3 separate regions of the Homo sapiens genome follow, and all the other regions are linked to region 3. The links come from fine-mapping of genetic effects on gene expression. A gene starts in region 3. Each other region holds a variant in brackets. All regions are shown on one strand. Distances are between the middles of the regions. Region 1 overlaps IQGAP1 (IQ motif containing GTPase activating protein 1). Region 2 overlaps IQGAP1 (IQ motif containing GTPase activating protein 1). Region 3 holds the start of IQGAP1 (IQ motif containing GTPase activating protein 1).

The links. PIP is the estimated chance that this variant, and not a neighbour inherited with it, causes the effect. A credible set is the group of variants that fine-mapping cannot tell apart.
Region 1: its variant is the best candidate, but not a certain one, in a credible set for the expression of IQGAP1 in whole blood (INTERVAL, PIP 0.74).
Region 2: its variant is the best candidate, but not a certain one, in a credible set for the expression of IQGAP1 in anterior cingulate cortex (GTEx, PIP 0.58).

The regions. Positions count from the first base shown.
Region 1 is chr15:90,457,446-90,463,920 of GRCh38, forward strand. All of the region lies in intron 15 of IQGAP1 (IQ motif containing GTPase activating protein 1), which reads left to right. Among named protein-coding and RNA genes, the nearest start is that of CRTC3, 69 kb to the right of the region's middle. RefSeq lists an enhancer at 6,148-6,237. The variant CAAAA/C (reference allele first, on the strand shown) is at 3,854.
Region 2 is chr15:90,421,878-90,428,352 of GRCh38, forward strand. It overlaps IQGAP1 (IQ motif containing GTPase activating protein 1), which reads left to right. Exons shown (of 38, transcript NM_003870.4): 3 at 4,233-4,389. Among named protein-coding and RNA genes, the nearest start is that of IQGAP1, 37 kb to the left of the region's middle. The variant A/T (reference allele first, on the strand shown) is at 2,602.
Region 3 is chr15:90,385,624-90,392,098 of GRCh38, forward strand. It overlaps IQGAP1 (IQ motif containing GTPase activating protein 1), which reads left to right and starts at 2,619. Exons shown (of 38, transcript NM_003870.4): 1 at 2,619-2,773; 2 at 5,151-5,250. The coding sequence starts at 2,719. It also overlaps the pseudogene NDUFA3P4. RefSeq lists a silencer at 2,343-3,122.

The sequences.
Region 1 (6,475 bases), 72 kb after region 3:
AGACGGAGTCTTGCTCTGTCACCCAGGCTAGAGTGCAATGACGCAATCTCAGCTCACTGCAACTTCTGCCTCCCAGGTTCAAGCAATTCTCCTGCCTCTGCCTCCCCAGTACCTAGGATTACAGGCGAGAGCCACCATGCCTGGCTAAAATTTTTTTTTTTTTTTTTTGTATTTTTTGTAGAGATGGGGTTTCACCATGTTGGCCAGTTTGGTCTCGAACTCCTGACCTCAAGTGATCTGCCCGCCTCAGCCTCCCAAAGTGTTGGGAATTACAGGCATGAGCCACTGCCCATGGCCTGTAAATAGTGCTTCTATGAATTTTTAATTTTGGTTAAAAACATATATGTGCATTTCTGTTAGGTATACATTTTGGAGAGGAGTTATGGCCATAGGGAACACATATATGAAGCTTTAATAGATAATGTCATGAAGGTTTTTTGTGACAACTTAATTGAAACGTAATTCACGTATCAGGTAATTCAGCGTCAGTGGACTTTAGTACGTTGATAGAATTGTGCAGTCATCACCACAGTCAATTTTTGAACATTTCATCACCCCAAGAGAAACTCAGTACCCATTAGTAGTCACTCATTTTCCCTTAATCTCCCCCAGCCCTGGGCAACCATCAGACTGCTGGTTTGTCTATGGGTTTGTCTATTCTGAACATTTCATATAAATGGAGTTATGCAATGTATGGTCGTTTGTGACTGGCTTCTTTTAGCTTAGTTTATCCAAGCTGTAGCAGTAGCACTTCATTTCTTTTTGTTGCTGAATAATATTCCATTGTATGACTGTACCACATTTTATTTATTTATTCATGAGTTGATGACACATGGATTATTTCCACTTTACCACATTTTATTTATCCATTCATGAGTTGATGACATATGAATTATTTGCACTTTATTCGTGATTTGATAGACACTTAGCATGAGTGACAGCTATATAAGTTGTATCTTCAATCTACTTCCCTTTTTAGATATGGAAGCCGACCTAGCTTATTCTCCGAAACCCCACTCCTCTGACAGTCAGATATAAGGCTCCCTTTGGACTTTCTTAGCAGCAAAAACAAACATTACTACCACTAGCATACATAGAATCATTGCAGCCTGACACATTAGAGATTCTGAATCAGTAGAATTAGACTTTAAGCTTAGGAATCTGTATTTTAAAAATGACTTTTTCATTGTTCTGATGACCAGCCAAGTTTGGGAAACACTAATCTAATAAAATGAATCAAAGACAGAGACTTCCATTTCTAGCTTCCCTAGAGCCAACTACTTCTTATCCGAGTAAGTAAAATCAGTTGATCTCAATTTCCTGGCTATGAAATAGCAGTTGTGATTCAACCCTCTCCACAGCATCAAGTGACATTCTGCATAATTATATCTCTTAAATGAAACCTGGTAGTATCTATCAGATACTACACTTACATGATTAGGACATGGTAATGTCAACTACTGCCATGCCAATGTAATCAAAGGAGATCAGTCAACATCATAATATTACCAACATATAAAATTGCCCACTCCTCTACCCTTCACCAAAACTTACAGAGCCCACACGAGTGTCAGTGTGCAAAAAGCTCCAATACACTAAAGCCTTGGTCTGTTTTTATACGTCTGGCTACTCAGAATTAAAAATTTCTTTTAGCCCTTCCGCTTGCTGCCTCACTTCAGGAGTCTTCTGAAGGCTATGGTTCTATCCAGTTGTTGTTACTTAGTAAGCACTGAAAAGGAGGTCAATCACAATTAGAAAACAGATGTTAATTATGCTTTAATCAACAATTATTTGAGGGCCTACTACATACAAGGCAACTTCCTAGACAGCAACAGCATAAAAAGAGGCATAAACCTTGTCAATTTCCTCAGCAAACTAGGTAGCGGGTAAGACAAACATTTTAAAAGATGAGTTTATGTTACAATTACTTTAACAACTTTATCTTCATAGTAGCATTATTCCTGATAGCCACAGTGGAAAAAAACAGTATGTCTATCAAGTCAGGAATAGATAAAGTGTAAATAATTCAAAAGGCTGTGTGTGCGTTTTGTTTGGGTCATCGGAGTAAAACTTTTTGAGGATGTGACTATAGAGTTTGAAGCATTTCCTTTGCTGTGGAATAACTTTTCAGACTTCATCAAAGGCGGAGGAAGTCGGGGGAGTTAAAGGAAAAATTGCTTAACATTGCCAGGCCCAGCTGGGTGAACTACACATTGGGTGGAATTGTTTTTTGTTTGTTTGTTTTTGGTTTGGGTTTTTTGTTTTGTTTTGTTTTGTTTTTTGTTTTTGGCATCACCTGAGCATCTAAGTCTCCATCAGCCATTTGGGAGTGTTTTTAAAAATATTTATCACTGAGTTACAAATTTAGAGAGCAAAAGATCTTAATTTAAATTTGGTCTGTAGTTTTATTTTCTTCTGATATCTTTGTGTTTGGTTTTGGTATCAGGGTAATACTGGCCTCATGACTTGAAGTGTTCCTTTTATATTTTCAAAGAGTTTGTAAAGGATTAGCTAGTTCTTTAAACATTTGTTACAAGTCACCAGTGAGGCCACGTGGTCCGGAGTTTTTTGTGTGGGGGATATTTTTTGTTTTGTTTTGAGCTGCAGTACTGTGTAGGAAAGGGGTCCCGATGCAGACCCCAAGAGATGGTTCTTGGATCTCACACAAGAAAGAATTCAGAGAGAGTCCATAGAGTGAAGTGGAAGCAAGTTTATTAAGAAAGTAAAGGAATAAAAGAATGGCTTCTCCATAGACAGAGCAGCCCTGAGGGCCGCTGGTTGCCCATTTTATATTTCATGATGATATGCTAAACAAGAGCTTTATCAGATCTTTTCTGAGCATGTGCACAGCCCACACATGCACTGTGGCCTCCTAGATCCCATCCAGGAATATGTCAAGTTGTCAGAGCTCTCCATGAACATCTCATTCTCCAGCTTTTCCTTATAAGGTTTTTAGTTAGTCTCTTGTTTGCCTAAACTGTTATCCTTAATGTTTTTGACAATTGCTTTTGGAGAAAAGGCTGTTTGCAGTGGATGAGCTCTTGGTCAGGTCAAATAAAGACAGCCATGCGAGTGTGACCTCTGAACAGGTCAGCTAATGACAGTTCTTTGGGAATGGGGCTTTGAAGGGATGGTAGGAGGGGCAGATTGGAATAGGGGAGTTTAAAGCACCACAGAACTCACTGTTCTTACTGAGTTTCAGCTGTTTTTCTTGAATGCATTCTCCAATTTCTGCAAGCCTTTGGTTAATTTCTACCGTATTGAAAAAACTGGCCGGGTGCAGTGGCTCATGCTTGTAATCCCAGCACGTTGGGATGCCAAGGCGGGTGGATAGTTTGAGCCCAGGAATTTGAGACCAGGCTGGGCAAGATGGTAAAACCCTGTCTTAACGAAAAATAAAAATATTAGCTGGACACGGTGGTGTGCACCTGTGGTCCCAGGCACTTGGGAGGTTGAGATGGAAGGATCACTTGGGCCTAGGGGGCTGAGGTTGCGGTGAGCCAAGATTGCACCACTGCACTCCAGCCTGAGTGACAAAGCAAGACCCTGTCTTTAAAAAAAAAAAAAAAAAAAAAAAAGGGCTGGGCGCAGTGCCTCATCCCTGTAATCCCAGCACTTTGGGAGTCCCAGGTGGGCAGATCACCTGTGGTCAGGAGTTCGAGACCAGCCTGGCCAACATGGTGAAACTCCATCTCTACTAAAAATACAAAAAATTAGCCAGGCGTGGTGGCAGGCACCTGTAATCGCAGCTACCCAGGAGGCTGAGGCAGGAGAATCACTTGAACCCAGGAGGTGGAGGTTGCAATGAGCACCACTGCACTCCAGCTTGGGTGACAAGAGTGAAACTCCGTCT[CAAAA/C]AAAGAAAAACTGATGCTGGTGATTGTTTGCCAGTGTACCAATGTTTTTTGTTTGTTTGTTTTTCATGGTGGAGAGGATTTTCAGAGGTCTTTACCATTTTCACTAATGTCACGTTTCTCTTCATTAAATTTAGTGTTTGTGGGACTCTTGATAAAAGTGGATTACTAGTCGTGAGTAGTACAGTCTGAATGCAAGACATGGATATCAGGGCTCCTCAAGAACTCATTTTATAATTAAGAATATGAATGACTTAGGCCGTGTGTGGTGGCTTACGCCTATAATCCCGGCACTTTGGGAGGTCAAGGCAGGCGGATCACTTGAGGTCAGGAGTTTGAGACCAGCCTGGCTGACATGGCGAAACTCCATCTCTACTAAAAATACAGGTGTGGTGTACACCCCTGTAGTCCCAGCTACTCAGGAGGCTGAGGCAGGAGGATTGCTTGAACCCGGGAGTAGGAGGTTGCAGTAAGCTGAGATCATACCACTGCACTCCAGCCTGGGTGACAGCGAAGCTGCATCTCAAAAAGGAAGAAAGAATAAGAATGACTTAAATCGGCTGGGTGCGGTGGCTTACACCTGTAATCTTTGTACTTTGGGAGGCTGAGGCAGGTGGATCACGAGGTCAGGAGATCAAGACCATCTTGGCTAACACAGTGAAACCCCATCTCTACTAAAAACACAAAAAAAAAAAAAAAAGAAAAAAAAAAAATTAGCCCGGCATGGTGGTAGGCGCCTGCGCCTTTAGTCCCAGCTACTCGGGAGGCTGAGGCAGGAGAATGGCATGAACCCAGGAGGTGGAGCTTGCAGTGAGCCAAGATCGGGCCACTGCACTCCAGTCTGGGCGACAGAGCGAGACTCTGTCTCAAAAAAAAAGAATGACTTAAATCTCTCTCTGACCTCCATGTGTGTATATGCACTTATGCACACATGCTTATATACATGTAGCTAGTAATCAGCTGGTTCACACCAGCACAGCTGTACCAGTTGTTAGGACATTGAAATTCTTTTATTTTGTTTGGTACATTGTTACTGTCCCAACCCTCCCATATCTTTGCCATCACTCCCCAACTCTAATTGAAATCCCACTATATGGCAACTAAACCAGCAGTGACCATAAGGACTCTGCTCCATCCTGATTGGTCAGTGCTTATGTTGTGTAGTTGATAAACGTGTTGTACAGATTTGTGTATGTGTGTTTATGTGTGTATGTGGTATATATGTGGTTATATATTTATATATGTAATATTGGGTCTATCATCACACATGCAAACCAAGCCACATAGTAAGTAAAGTCTTTTTAAAAAGTTTTGAGTGATGAGAAGTGCCCTTTAGAGGGGTGTGTGAGTGTGTGCTTTCCATATATACATGTACATAACATAGTCATTCCTTTGCCTCTTCCCCCTTTTCCTGTGTTTGTGGCTTCTTCACCTCTTCTACCTCCAATCATTGCCCACTCTTTTTTTAAATTCTGACTTCTGGTCCCTATCTCTTTACCTCTTCTGAAATGCAATCAGCGTGTTTCTAAGTGTCAGAGTTGTTAGGGAGCTGTGCTTGAATATATCTTAGATAGCATTTTTACAGCAAATCTGTTTTCTCTCCATAATATCTAGCCTGGGCTTTAACACTCTGCTCAGTCATTTGAGTTAATCTTTAGGTAATCTCTTTAAAACAAATTTTACCAGAAGGATTTGGGTTTTGTCATTTTATTCAGTCTAATTGGAGCAGAAAGAACCTGTTCTTTCTTCTTACACTGGGATGAGGTGTAGTGTATGCTGTCTCTCTTTCCTTCTTCATTCTGGTGAGGGGCTTTTCTGTATTAATGTTTCCCTGAAACACCTGAGACACCCATCCATTCACTTTTTCTTGCCTTTCATACTATTGCTCTATTGCTTATTTCTTAAGGAGTATGTATGAAAGGTTTTACTTTAATCTGCATGGGGCAGGGAAGAAAGAATTCTGAATGCTTAGAAAGGTTCTACCTTTCTCAATGCAAGGGAGGTTGTGCTAAGTCTCACAACTTTGCTTACAGCAGATTCTGCTCAGATATCTGTTGTATGATTATCCCAGAAGTGAACCCAAAATGGCTTGATTCTGTGGAAATGCTTCTGTTTTTATGATACGAGGATTTTTCTGCTGCTTCTCTTGGAGACTAGACCATCAGCCCTCTCGCTTATGACTTCACAATTTAAGTTGTCACAAGCCTGCAGCTGACTCATTGTATTGTCTCACATTGGAACTATTGTCTAGTATTTCCAGTAGTTATTCTTAGGACTCTAGGGGATGGTGTGTGGTCATTTTCTATTTTCAGTAATAGAAAGCGACTAGTGGTAGGAAGGTACTAGGTTCTGCAGCTTTTAAGTGATTTATTTGTTCTTGCATTCTATTTATCTGTTTACTCTTTCCCTTTCCCAAGACTGTGAGCTTCTTAAAATTGGGACAGTGCCTCTTAGAATTGTAAGGCCAGCACCTACCATAATTAGGTTAAATGATCTTTCTAAAAGACTGCATTTAAGAGAAATCACTGCTTTCAATTTCAGATGCTTTCCTTTGGCCTTATCCTGTCACCTGCACTCTTTATAAATTGCAGGGATTGTGGCTGCTTCACTATATGGAGTGA
Region 2 (6,475 bases), 36 kb after region 3:
CTCCAATTCCTGACCTCAAGTGATCCACCCGCGTTGGCCTCCCAAAGTGCTGGGATTACAGGCGTGAACCACTGCACCGGTTCTAAATATTTAAGTTTTATAAGAAAGGTTTTGTGTCTAAGTTGAGAATCACTGGTGGATTTAGTTAAGCTAAAATACCTTTAATTATTAAAAAGTAGGCAGAATGTGGAGAGATACCAGCCTTTTTCCTTCTTGGTATTTCTGCGATTTTTCCCTTTTTAGACAGCCTGTGGAGCTCAACCCCTTTTGGCTTTTCAGGTGATATAGTGAGAGCAAGAGTGATACTGTGAGGAGGATTCTAAACCTAGCAATCAGTCTTGTTATTCCATCTTTGCCACTAGCTATTGGATGACCTTGGATCAGCCTCATTCTTATTTGTAAATGGGAGGAAGTGCAAATAGATTATTAGCCTCTGAGCAGGCTTGTGGCCAGTTAGATTCTTTTTCAATGTTTATATTTTTAATTTTGGAGTTGTACTTCTAAGGACCTTTACTAAGGAATTAATTCTAAATAAAGAAGAACACCGTGCACAAAGATATTCCTTGCACTATTATTTAATGGTTGAAAACATTTAGAAATGACATAAATGTCTAAGATAGGTGACTTATTAAGGACTTGGTTAAATTTTTATGTAAACTTAAAGTCTTCAGAAACTATATAATAACATGGAAAATATAAACATTTCAGAAATGTTTAATAATTGTCTCATTCATATATATATATATATGTATATATATATATGTATATGTATATATATATATGTATATATATATATATATATAATTTTTGAGACAGAGTTTGTATATATAATTTTTGAGACAGAGTTTTGCTCTGTTGCCCAGGTTGGAGTATGGTGGCACGATCATAACTCACTGCAGCCTTGACCTCCTGGGCTCAAACGGTCCTCCTGCTGCAGCCTCTCAAGTAGCTAGGACTACAGGCATGTGCCACCACGCCTGGCTAATTTTTAAATTTTTTGTAGAGACAGGGTCTGGCTGTGTTGCCAGGCTGGTCCTGAACTCTTGGGCTCAAGCAATCCTCCTGCCTTGGCCTCCCAAAGTGCTGGGATTACAGGCGTGAGCTACTGTGCCTGGCCATTTTTAGATATATATTATATTAAAAACAAACAAAGGGATTTTCCCTAGAAGTGCATTTGCTTCCTGGCTCTCAGGTTTTCTGATTCTGTGATTTAGTAGAAGAAGGGGAAATCTCATGTGAGCTGTAGAGAAAGACTGAAAGAAGTGTTTGTTGTGTCATCTTGGAATTCGAGTAGAATCCAAACTTCTGCTAACATTAAAAATGTTAACATGGCACTTTACTTTTCAAAGCAGTTTGGTCCTGATTTGTTCGTTTGTGACAGGGTTTCACTTTGTCACCCCAGTTAGAGTGCAGTGCCACCATCTCAACTCACTGCAGCTTCTACCTCCCAGGTTAAAGTGATCCTCCTGTCTTAGCCTCCCAAGTATCTGAGACTATAGGTGCACACCACCACACTGGCAAATTTTTGTATTTTTAGTAGAGATGGGGTTTCGCCATGTTGTCCAGGCTGGTCTGGAACTCCTGACCTCAAGTGTTCGGCCTGCCTTGGCCTCCCAAAGTGCTGGGATTACAGGTGTGAGCCACTGCATCCTACCTAGTCCTGATTTATTTTATAAACAAACCAGGTGATACTCCATTGTGAAATAGCTCAGATTGGTGGGCAAGCCACATATGTGGTGAGGTGACTTGGAAGGCAGCTTCAGGTTTGAGCAGTTGTTTAGAAACAATGTATTTTGCCTCCCTGTTTATTCTAGCTCATTCTTTCTGTTTAATAACTTTCACCAAATCACAGTTGGCCTTTCTTCTCTGACCTGACACCTGTGTTATATAAAGAGCATTCTACCCAGCTATAGGAAACATCTAAGTCAGGACTGTTTTATAGCAGTTGGACTAGGGAAAGGAAATATAAAGAATGCTGGGAGATGTTACCATGGGCTCTCCTTTTATTTTTGTCTAGAAATCTCAGAAAAGAGGAAAACCTAAATACCTCTGGTAACTGGCTCTGATTCAAGGCAAAAGTATCTACTGTGCTCTTTATCCGTAGTTTTCCCTGTGTGTTTACTTCATTTTAAAAAGAAAAATAAGTAACTTTTTTTTTTTTTGGTACTGTTACGTGCTTGAGGGCCATTTTTGGCTTAGGCTGAGGTTGTTAGGTTTTCACTGTTAATGAGAACCCAAGTTAGATTGTCCCCTGAGAGCTGGAGTTGCCAGTAGTTGTTTGCCAGAATGATTTTATCAACATCCTTTTTAGCAGTAAAAAGATGAGATGTGTCCTTGAACTACACTATTTTCCGTACCGACAACTGCCAATCTTTTCCACATTGCCCTTTGCATCTTTAGGCTGAATAGAGGTATAGTTTAGATTTTTGTAGCCATTTCAAATTGGTATCTCATTTATTATGACAACTCTTCTGGAAAACTCATTTGTTTCATTTTTCCCCTTTCTGACAATTTAAGTTCTACTATTTGAAAGAAAGAAAAGACAGCAGAGAAGCTTATCATCGAGTATAGGAAACAACCAGAAAATTATCTGGCCCATTC[A/T]TATACCCATCAGGCTTCATGTGTTAGAGAGTACGCTGCCTAATTTAAAGGTAGAGTAGATTTAAAAGCAAGACTGAGCTGGGAACGGTGGCTTACGCCTGTAATCCCAGCACTTTGGAAGGCCGAGGTGGGTGGATCACCTGAGGTCAGGAGTTCAAGACCAGCCTGACCAATATGGTGAAACCCCATCTCTACTAAAAATACCAAAAAATTAGCCAGGTGTGGTGGCACAGGCCTGTAATCCCAGCAACTCGGGAGGCTGAGGCAGGAGAATTGCTTGAACCCAGGAGGCAGAGGTTGTAGTGAGCTGAGATTGTACCATTGCACTCCAGCCTGGGCAACAGAGTGAGACTCCAACTTAAAAAAAAAAAAATTGAGTGAAATAATTTTAAATTAGGAGTTTTAAATCTAGGGTTCCTAGAGTCAATGAAGTCTCTGAAATTACATGTAAAATTTAAGTATATGTATATTTTTCCAGGGGAAGGTTCTATAGCTTTCCTTCGATATTCACAGGATTCTGTGGCTCAGTGGTTGAAAACTGTTGCCATGGTCCGGGTCCAGTGGCTCACACCTGTAATCCCAGCACTTTGGGAGGCTGAGGTGGGCGGATCACTTGAGGTCAGGAGTTTGAGACCAGCCTGGTCAATATGACGAAGCCCCGTCTCTACTAAAAATACAAAAATTAGCTGGGCATGGTGGTGCATGCCTGGAGTCCCAGCTACTCAGGAAGCTGAGGCAGGAGAATTGCTTGAACCCGGGAGGCGGAGGTTGCAGTGAGCTGAGATCATGCCACTGCACTCCAGGCTGGGCAATAGAGTGAGACTTTGTCTCAAAAGAAAAAAGAAGAAAAGGAAAAAAAAACCATTGCCATAAATGATCTTTAGTTACCTATGTTTCCGTTGGTAGAAAATACATGTAACTAAACTTTCCTTTGTTTTATCTTAGGCTTTCTTGAAATGTACTAAGAGATATTTGAAGGGGAAAATACAGTTTTCTTTTTTTCTTTGTTTTATTCTTTTTCTTTTTGGAAAATAGTTTTCTTTTCCTATCCTTTTTACAACCTCCTCCCTGCCTCCAAAAATCTGAGAATTCATTATTTACTGCTTCCATAGGAGTTTCTTTTAATATTTTAGCTGAAATAATTGAGTCTGTTTTGATAACCCCCAAGCAACCTTAAAACTTGGACCTAGAAATTCACTGTGGATTCTGAGTTCTGCAACTGGAAGAGAATGTCAGCAACAAATTAAAGCTTCTGAACAGTTGAAATGGTGGCTTCAGTTACCAATGGCTTTTCTTAGGATTTGTTAAAGAGCAACTTAAGGACTGAGGGAAAGGGTCTGAGGTTCTGGGAGCAGTCAGGATCTGGGGAGCCAGCTGGCTGTGTTGCTGCAGCAGAGGAAAGTGGGGTGGAGAAGAAAGTGGCATTTATGCTCAGGAATTTTCCTAAGTTCCCCGCCTCTGAGATCTGACTGGGCCAGGCAGGGAAAGGATGTGTGTGGAACTGATTGTAAAAGAGTGCTATTATGTTCAGTTTAAGCTTCTCCAAGGAGAATGGAAATAAAGCTTAAAATCTCTAAGGAAAAGTTCTGACCTTCCCTTTCTTTTTTTGCATCCTCTCTCCTTTGGTGCAGGTGGATGGAAGCATGCCTAGGGGAAGATCTGCCTCCCACCACAGAACTGGAGGAGGGGCTTAGGAATGGGGTCTACCTTGCCAAACTGGGGAACTTCTTCTCTCCCAAAGTAGTGTCCCTGAAAAAAATCTATGATCGAGAACAGACCAGATACAAGGTGAGTCCTTCCTTGCTTTGTGCTTAGATTTCTGTCAACTTGAGAAAGTTAGCATGTTTTATTTTGTGTAAGAGTTATTGAGAAGTCTGTGTAAGGTGTGTTTGTTGCAACAAATTATAGCCTTTAAAATGCCTGGCAGAATGGAGAAATTTGTGCAAAGGCAATATGTACTAGGCAAATATTATTACATCTCTTTTAGAATTTATCTGGAAAGCCCGCCTCCCCCCTACCCTGTCCCCCCACAAAAAAATATGTACTAGGAAAAGAACTTTAGCTGTCTTTGTTTCTGGTAGAATTCTTATGATGTTATATATCTAGAAATTTTCCTAGTTGTAGATGAATTTTTTAATTCTTTAGAAGGTAGAAGAAATAACTAGGGGAATTACCACTTTAAATCTAGTTTTGGGGCCGGGCGCGGTGGCTCACGCCGGTAATCCCAGTACTTTGGGAGGCTGAGGTGGGCGGATCACAAGGTCAGGAGTTCGAGACCAGCCTGACCAACATGGTGAAACCCCGTCTCTACCAAAAATACAAAAATTAGCCGGGCGTGGTGGTGCATGCCTGTAATCCCAGCTACTCAGGAGGCTGAGGCAGGAGAATCGCTTGAACCCGGGAGGCAGAGGTTGCAGTGAGCCGAGATCATGACACTGCACTCCAGCCCTGGGTGTCAGAGTGAGACTCCATCTCAAAAAAAAAAAAAAAAAGAAAGCCTAATTTTAGGCTGGGCACACTGATTCTCACCTGTAATCCCAGTACTTGGAAGGCCAAGGTGGTAGGATCACTTAAGACCAGGAGTTTGAGAGTAGCCTGGGCAATATAATGAGACCCTGTCTTACAAAAAAAAAAATTAGCCAGACATGGTCACACATGCTGTAGTCCTGGCTACTTGGGAGACTGAGGCAAGAGGATTGCTTGAGCCTAGGAGGTTGAGGCTGTAGGGAGTTAGTATTGCGCCACTGCACTCCCACCTGTCTCTTAAAAAAAGAAATGAATTTTAAGCACTGAGATTTGTTGGCAAATTGAATGCAAAAGTAACTTCATGAAAAAACATCACCCTGCGTTGCTGGAGTTCAAGGTACAATGGGAAAGTGATTCAGTTTCAGAAAATTGAGATAAGTGAGAGGGTTTGATTCCTGTATCTCAAGGTGCTATAAAAAAGAAGACTGACTGCTTAATTAAGTTGGAATGTTGGGCCAGGCCCAGTAGTTCATGCCTGTAATCCCAGCACTTTGGGAGGTTGAGGCGGGCGGATCACTTGAGGTCAGGAGTTCAAGACAAACCCGGCCAACTTGGTGAAACCCCATCTCTACTAAAAATATAAAAATTAGCCAGGCTTGGTGGCGCACACCTGTAATCCCAGCCACTCAGGAGGCTGAGGCAGGAGAATCACTTGAACCCAGGAGGCGGGGGTTACAGTGAGCTGAGATAGCACCACTGCACTCCAGCCTGGGCAACAGAGCAAGACTCTGTCTCCCAAAAAAAAAATGGGGATGTTGACAAGGACCAAATTTTCTTGTCTACAGAGGTTACCTGTGAATCCTTATTTGAAAAATGATGACTATGAAAGATAGTGGAGAATTGCATTACCAAGACCAAATGTAAGGGTGGTCAGCTGTAATAACTGGGCCCAAACTCAGAATGAGTAAGGCTACAATGTCAAAGAGATAATTTTTATGTTTTATGTTTAAATTCAAGGGAAAACAAGGAACGGTATAGGTACTCAGCCAAAATTAACATCATAAACAGAAACTTTCCTTAAACAAAAAGACTTATATGTTCAGTGGGTTTTTTTTGTTGTTGGTTGGTTGGTTGGTTTTTGTTTTGAGACAGGGACTTGCTGTGTCACCCAGGCTAGAGTGCAGTAATGCCATCATGGCTCACTGCAGCCCTGACCTCCCTAGGCTCAAGCAATCCTCCCACCTCAGCCTCCCTAGTAGTTGGGACTATGGGAGCATGCTACTACACCAGGCTAATTTAAACAAATTTTAGTGTAGAGATGGGGGTCTCACTATGTTGCCCAGGTTGGTCTCCAACTCCTGGGCTTAAGTTATCCTCCCACCTTGGCCTCTCAAAGTGCCAGGATTAC
Region 3 (6,475 bases):
TTGGCCAGGCTGCTCTCGAACTCCTGACCTAAGGTGATCCACCCACCTTGACCTCCCAAAGTGCTCGGATTACAGGTGTGAGCCACTGTGCCTGCCCTAGTAGGCATAATTTTAAATATTTGAAGATGTTGAATTAACTGAGTGAGACTTAAAAAAAAATTTTCAGGAAATTTCAGAATGCTCTATGTCCTCGTTGCCATTGCGGCTGCCTTTCTCAAGAATGCCTGGCCTAAGGAGCGGGTGCTGGTCCTGTTCCTCACCATCGGGGGCCTAGCTATAAATCTGACCCCAGTCTGCCCCTATACCATGTACTCCACCAGGATCAACTAGGCCACGCCCCACAACAACCCAGTGCCCCTCCGAGATGATGGGAACATGCTGGACATGCCCAGCCACCCCCAAGGCCCAAGCATGGAGTGGTTGAAGAAACTGCAAGCACTTCCATTGACATGGAGAAGACCATGTCCCCTGTGGCCCCCAATAAAAATGTGACCCCCCCGCCTCCGAAATAAATAAATCATTCAGTTTCTGAAAAGTGTTTGGTAAAATGTGCTAGACTTATAAATAGAATAATACAATTTGTAAAGTGAACTTAAAAGCTTAAGAATGAAATAACTTTTTACTTTGTAGGCTTAATAAATGAAACCCTTGCCCACTTTTCTACAGGGGTGTTTTGTTCTTACAGGTTTTCAAGTATCTTTAATAGTCTGAAGGAAGAGTGAATACATTGAAAATAGCTGGAGCAAAACATCTGGAGTCAGGCTATGATTTGGCATGCTAAATCATGCTGAACTTGGCCCATTATCTTGAAGGGAGGAATAGAAAAAAAAATTTAAAAAGAGAAACACAATTGCATTTGCACTTTAGAGAGAACACCCTGATAACTGTGAGGATCTAGTTGGCAGAAGGGCGACTACAGTGTAATCACAACAGGGATGGAGACAAAAGTAGACATCTCAGAAATAAACACAGATTGGATGTAGGGTGCGAGGCAAGGAGCCTGGGGTGTTCCCACTGGGAATTGAGTACTTCTGTGAATAGAGAATATAGCAGGAGCAGGGTCAGTATTTGACACGTGGGATTTGAAGTGTCTGCCCTATACACAGGTGAAAGTGTTCATTAGCTGAAAATACTGAGGGACTTCCAGACGATCTGGTCTGGTGATACATATCGAGGGGTCCTCAGCAGTTATAGGCGAGTGTAGAAAAGATTACTGAGTAGGCAAAGAATAAACGGAAGAGGGCCGGGCGCGGTGGCTCACACCTGTAATCTCAGCACTTTGGGAAGCAGAAGCGGGTGGATTACCTGAGGTCAGGAGTTCGAGACCAGCCTGATCAACATGGTGAAACCCTGCCTCTACTAAAAATACAAAAAAAGTAGTTGGGCGTGGTGGCGGGCACCTATAATCCCAGCTACTTGGGAGGCTGAGGCGGGAGAGTCGCTTGAACCCGGGAGGCGGAGGTTGCAGTGAGCCGAGATCGCGCCACTGCACTCCAGCCTGAACGACTGAGCAAAACTCCGTCTCAAAAAAAAAAAAAAAAAAAAAATGCCGGGCGCGGTGGCTCACGCCTGTAATCCCAGCACTGTGGGAGGCCGAGGCGGGTGGATCACGAGGTCAGGAGATCGAGACCATCCTGGCTAACACGGTGAAACCCCGTCTCTACTAAAAATACAAAAACTTAGCCGGGCGCGGTGGCGGGTGCCTGTAGACTCAGCTACTCGGGAGGCTGAGGCAGGAGAATGGCGCGAACCCGGGAGGCGGAGCTTGCAGTGAGCCCGGATCGCGCCACTGCACTCCAGCCTGGGCGACAGAGCGAGACTCCGTCTCAAAAAAAAAAGAAAATAAAAAAAAAGAAAGAAAGAAAAGAAAAAAGAATAAACAGAAGAGGGCTGCGGACAGAATACCGTTGAATACCAATATCTGAAGGGCAAGCCACAAGGTGCAGGGGGCAGAGGCATCCCTGATACGGGAAAAGAGTTATTTTAAAAAGAACTTGCAAAGAACAATGTCAAGGGATCCAAAGGTAGGGAATTTGGACAGAGTTCGGCTTTAGCATCCGCATCTCAAATACCTGGGTACCTGGGTAATCTGGTGACTGCTGCCGAATCTAAGAGGACTGAGGCCAGGTTGCCAAACTGCGGAGAGTGGGGTTGGAGGGCTTTCATGGCAGTTTGGGGCCTGCTTGTGTCCAACAAGACAACCTGGGTCACCTCAAAGGGTGTCTTCTCCAAATATTGGTGCAGAGGTTAGCTGGGCCGGCAAGAGAAGGGAGATGACCCACTATTTTGATTTCAGGCAGCAGACACCGGCAGCCTTTCGGTTAGAGTTGCGGATAGGGCAGTGGCCTTGGGGGCGGGGCTATAAACCTGGGCGGGCATTCCCGGCAGGGCAAGCTCAGCGTGAGCCCGATTGGAGGATGGGCTCTACCTTCTTCCTTCCGCCTACGGAGACCATAGCGGGATGCAGGGCGGGGCCGGGCTGAGGGGGCGGAGTTAGGGGCGGGGCACGGTGACTCTGGCCCCGCCTCTTTCCGGCCGCTCAGGGCGGTGTCGCTGGGGCGGTGCCGCTGGGGCGGGGCCTGCGGGGTGGGGCTGACGGCACGGGGCGGGGCCTCGGGGACCCCGGCAAGCCCGCGCACTTGGCAGGAGCTGTAGCTACCGCCGTCCGCGCCTCCAAGGTTTCACGGCTTCCTCAGCAGAGACTCGGGCTCGTCCGCCATGTCCGCCGCAGACGAGGTTGACGGGCTGGGCGTGGCCCGGCCGCACTATGGCTGTGAGTGCGGGGCTCCGCGGCGCGGGGGCTTCGGGCTGGGCTAATTGCAGACGAGGCGCGATTTTCCTGGGGGCTCGGCCGGGCGGGTGGGGCAGGGCGGCTGCCGGCAGCTCGGACCCGGAAGAGCCGTCCCGGTGGGGCGGCGGGCGGCGGGCGGGGAGGCCCCTGGTTCGCGCCCCCTCGGGGTCCGAGGCGGCGGAGAGGACCCCCGAGGCCTCCCGCCTTAGCTGGGGCCGCGGTAGGGGGAGCCCCACCCAGCGCCTCTCGCCGCCCAGGCTCGGCCGAGATTGGGGAAGACGGCCTAGAGTGAGGTGGCAGGATGACCGCGCAGGGCGTGTCCCGGGGATTGGGGGTCTGGGTACGCGGGCTCTGCCCGTTTCGTGGAAAGGCGCTGCCCTAGTGTTGCCTGCGGGGTAGACCCAAGGGATAGACCAGGGTCCAGACCTGTCCGGTCCCAGGCTAGCTACGAGGTGCCGTCCTGGGCAAGTCACTTCAGTTTTCTCGGGCTTAGTTCCCTCCTCAAGATTTCAAAAGTAAAATAGTAATAAAGAAAAAAAAAAGAAGCAGAAAATCCTCTGACTTCCTCATTTTCTGTTGTCGGCCCTGGACGTCATTGAACTGCAGGCAGGATTGGCTAAAGGAGGACCCTTTGGGATTTTGAGGTTTTCGGTTTTATTTTATATTGTGGGAATAATGTTCTTTTTTAAAGGATCAACATTTCACGCATCAACAGTTATACGTGAGGTATTGTGCCACGTTTGTGAAATTAAAGATGAGTAAGATCAGGCCCTGTCTCCAAAGAGCGTTTTAATCAGAGAGTCAGGTGTGCAAGCTAATGATTATAAGGTGCAATAATGATAAAAGATGCTGAACTTACTAGCCATACAGAGTAATGTAGGTAAGGAGAAGGGGCCTGGGGAAGACAGTATGAGCACGGGAGGTGACTTTTTTTTTTTTTTTTTTGGAGACAGGGGGTCTTGCTCTGGTCGCCCAGCCTGGAGTTCAGTGGTGCAATCTCAGCTCACTGCAAACTCCACCTCCCAGGTTCAAGCGATTCTCCTGCAGTCTCCCGAGTACAGGCGTCGGCCACCACACTGGCTAATTTTTGTATTTTTAGTAGAGACAGGGTTTCACTGTGTTGGTCAGGCTGGTCTCAAACTCCTGATCTCAAATGATCCCCACGCCTCGACCTCCCAAAGTGTGAGCCACTGCACCTGGCCTGAAGGTGACATTTGAACAGAGCCTTGAAGAATGCTGTGTAGAAAGTTTGACAGGTGGCCAGGCATAGTGACTCCTGCGTGTAATCCCAGCACTTTGGGAGTCCGAGGTGAGAGGATAGTTTGAGGCCTTGAGTTTGAGACCAGCCTGGGCAGCACAGTGAGACTCCATCTCTTAAAAAAAAAAAAAAAAATTAGCCAGGCGTGGTGGCCCATGCCTGTGGTCCCAGCTGCTTGGGGCTGAGGTAGGAGGATCATTTGAGCCCAGAAAGTCGAGGCTGCAGTAAGCCATGATTGTGCCACTGCACTCGAGCCGGAGTGACAGAACAAGACCCTGTCTCAAAAAAAAAAAAAAAAAAGTTTGATAGGGCATGTGGAACAAGAGACAGGACCTGAGGGAAGAGCATAAACAAAGGTATTGAAAGTAGAGGGATACTGTGTTGGGAACTGAGTGATGTAGACTGCACAGTGGTGGGAGGAAGGGAAGAGGAGAGTTTCCAAAAATAGTTGGGACCAGACTGGGAAAGGCCTTGAATGCCTTCCCAAGGAGTTAGGAATTTATTCCACACCTGGTGCCCATGAAGGAAGCAGATTGCTTCAAGGTTAAGCTCAGGCTTTGGAGACAGACTCTCCAGGTTTGGATTCAGGCCCTGTCACTTATTTGCCATGGGGCTGAGTTCACCCAGCCTCAGTTTCTTCGTCTGTAAAATAGGAGTGATAATCACAGGATTGTTGTGGGGTTTCAATGAGAGAATGCGTGTAAAATGCTTCGTACAATTACTGCCACTTATGTCTCAATAACTGCTGGCTTTGGTCATTAATAAAAGAGGGAAACAATATTATCAGATCTGTATTTAGAAGGAGTTCTGGCAGATAGGGACAGATTTGTGCCAAAATCTCAAGACAGTATTTTTCAAGATTACACTGAAACTTAGTACATATTTATATTATCATACATTTTTAAAAAGGTCAAGATGATTATAGTTGAAACCACATAGTTCTTTTTTTAAGAAAGTCATTGTAGTACACCTGGCTGGCTACACACTCATTAGTTATCCTGACTTTCTAGGTGAGTGGCAGGAAATTGATTCTGTGGCAATCTTTTATCACTCAGGAAGGCTACAGATCCTGGTGTTTACATTCTTTCTTTTATGTTGTAGCTGTCCTGGATAATGAAAGACTTACTGCAGAGGAGATGGATGAAAGGAGACGTCAGAACGTGGCTTATGAGTACCTTTGTCATTTGGAAGAAGCGAAGAGGTAAAGATTGGCTGGCTGGAGAGAAGATTAAGAGAAGGGAACTGATAATAGTGTGAATACAAATAAAGATTGCTTTGAGGCTGAACACAGTGGTCCATGCCTGTAATCCCAACACGTTGGGAGGCCGAGGTGGGGGGGAATCACTTGAACCCAGCTGTTTGAGACCAGATTGGGCAACATAGTGACACCCCATCTCTACAAAAAAATTTTAAAAATTAGCCAGGCATGGTGGTGCATGCCAGTAGTCCTAGCTACTCGGGAGCCTGAGGAGGGAGGATCACTTGAGTCCGGGAGGTCGAGGCAGCAGTGAGCCGTGCTCTCACCACTGTGCTCTAGCCTGGGTGACAAAACTCCTGTTTTTGGTGGGGGGAAAAAAAAGAAAAGATTTATTTGAGTATGTTATAGATGTAACTGGGAAGCTGGTGGTTGAGGGAATAAGTATAGGTAGGGTATTTATTTATGGCAATAAGTAGCCTTGATGAGAGTTTATCATGAATCACTGTGATGGGCATTTAAGTGTACTGAACGGTTTTCCAGGTTTCTATTGTTCAGTCTTATGCTTATTGTGCATGTTTTGGGCGTTACCAACTGTGGGGTGGAAATAGCATTTTTAGGATTTGAAGTTATTGGCTTTAATGTTTCACTTATGCTTCATGAATTTTGATTTATATATGAATTGAGTCTCCTCCTCCTATGACCTGCGGAGTGGCTGCTTGGTTTGGGAGGCTTAGAAGCGTGGTGCTGTTGGTGTAGGTCCATCTGTTTGGCAATATTCAGAGTCAGCATCCTCTGCATTCTTTGTGAAGTGAATGTAAAGCTGCTCTTTTCCTTTTTCAGATGCCCCACAACCTTGTGGTCTTAATTTTAGAGTGTCATTTTGTTATCAGTGATTCATTTCTTTTGTTCTGGTGCTTGTGTTCTTTTGCAGAGTCCCAGGGTAGATGTAATTATAGATCATGTATTCTATAAGTGAGCTTTGGTGGAAAAGTCAAGTGAGGGATAATGAAATATTTGTAATTAACGTTTAATAAAAAGGGTGTTTGAAGTGGTGCTAATAAACAAGTGTGTGTGTATGTGTGTATTTTAATTCTGAAAATCTTAAAATGCTACAAGAAAGTCCAGAGAACAGTACAACAAACATCATTGTATTCCAGAACTAACAAATGTTAACATTTGAGATATTTCCCTTTCCTCTAAAAACAAAACAAAACAAAACCAACATCGC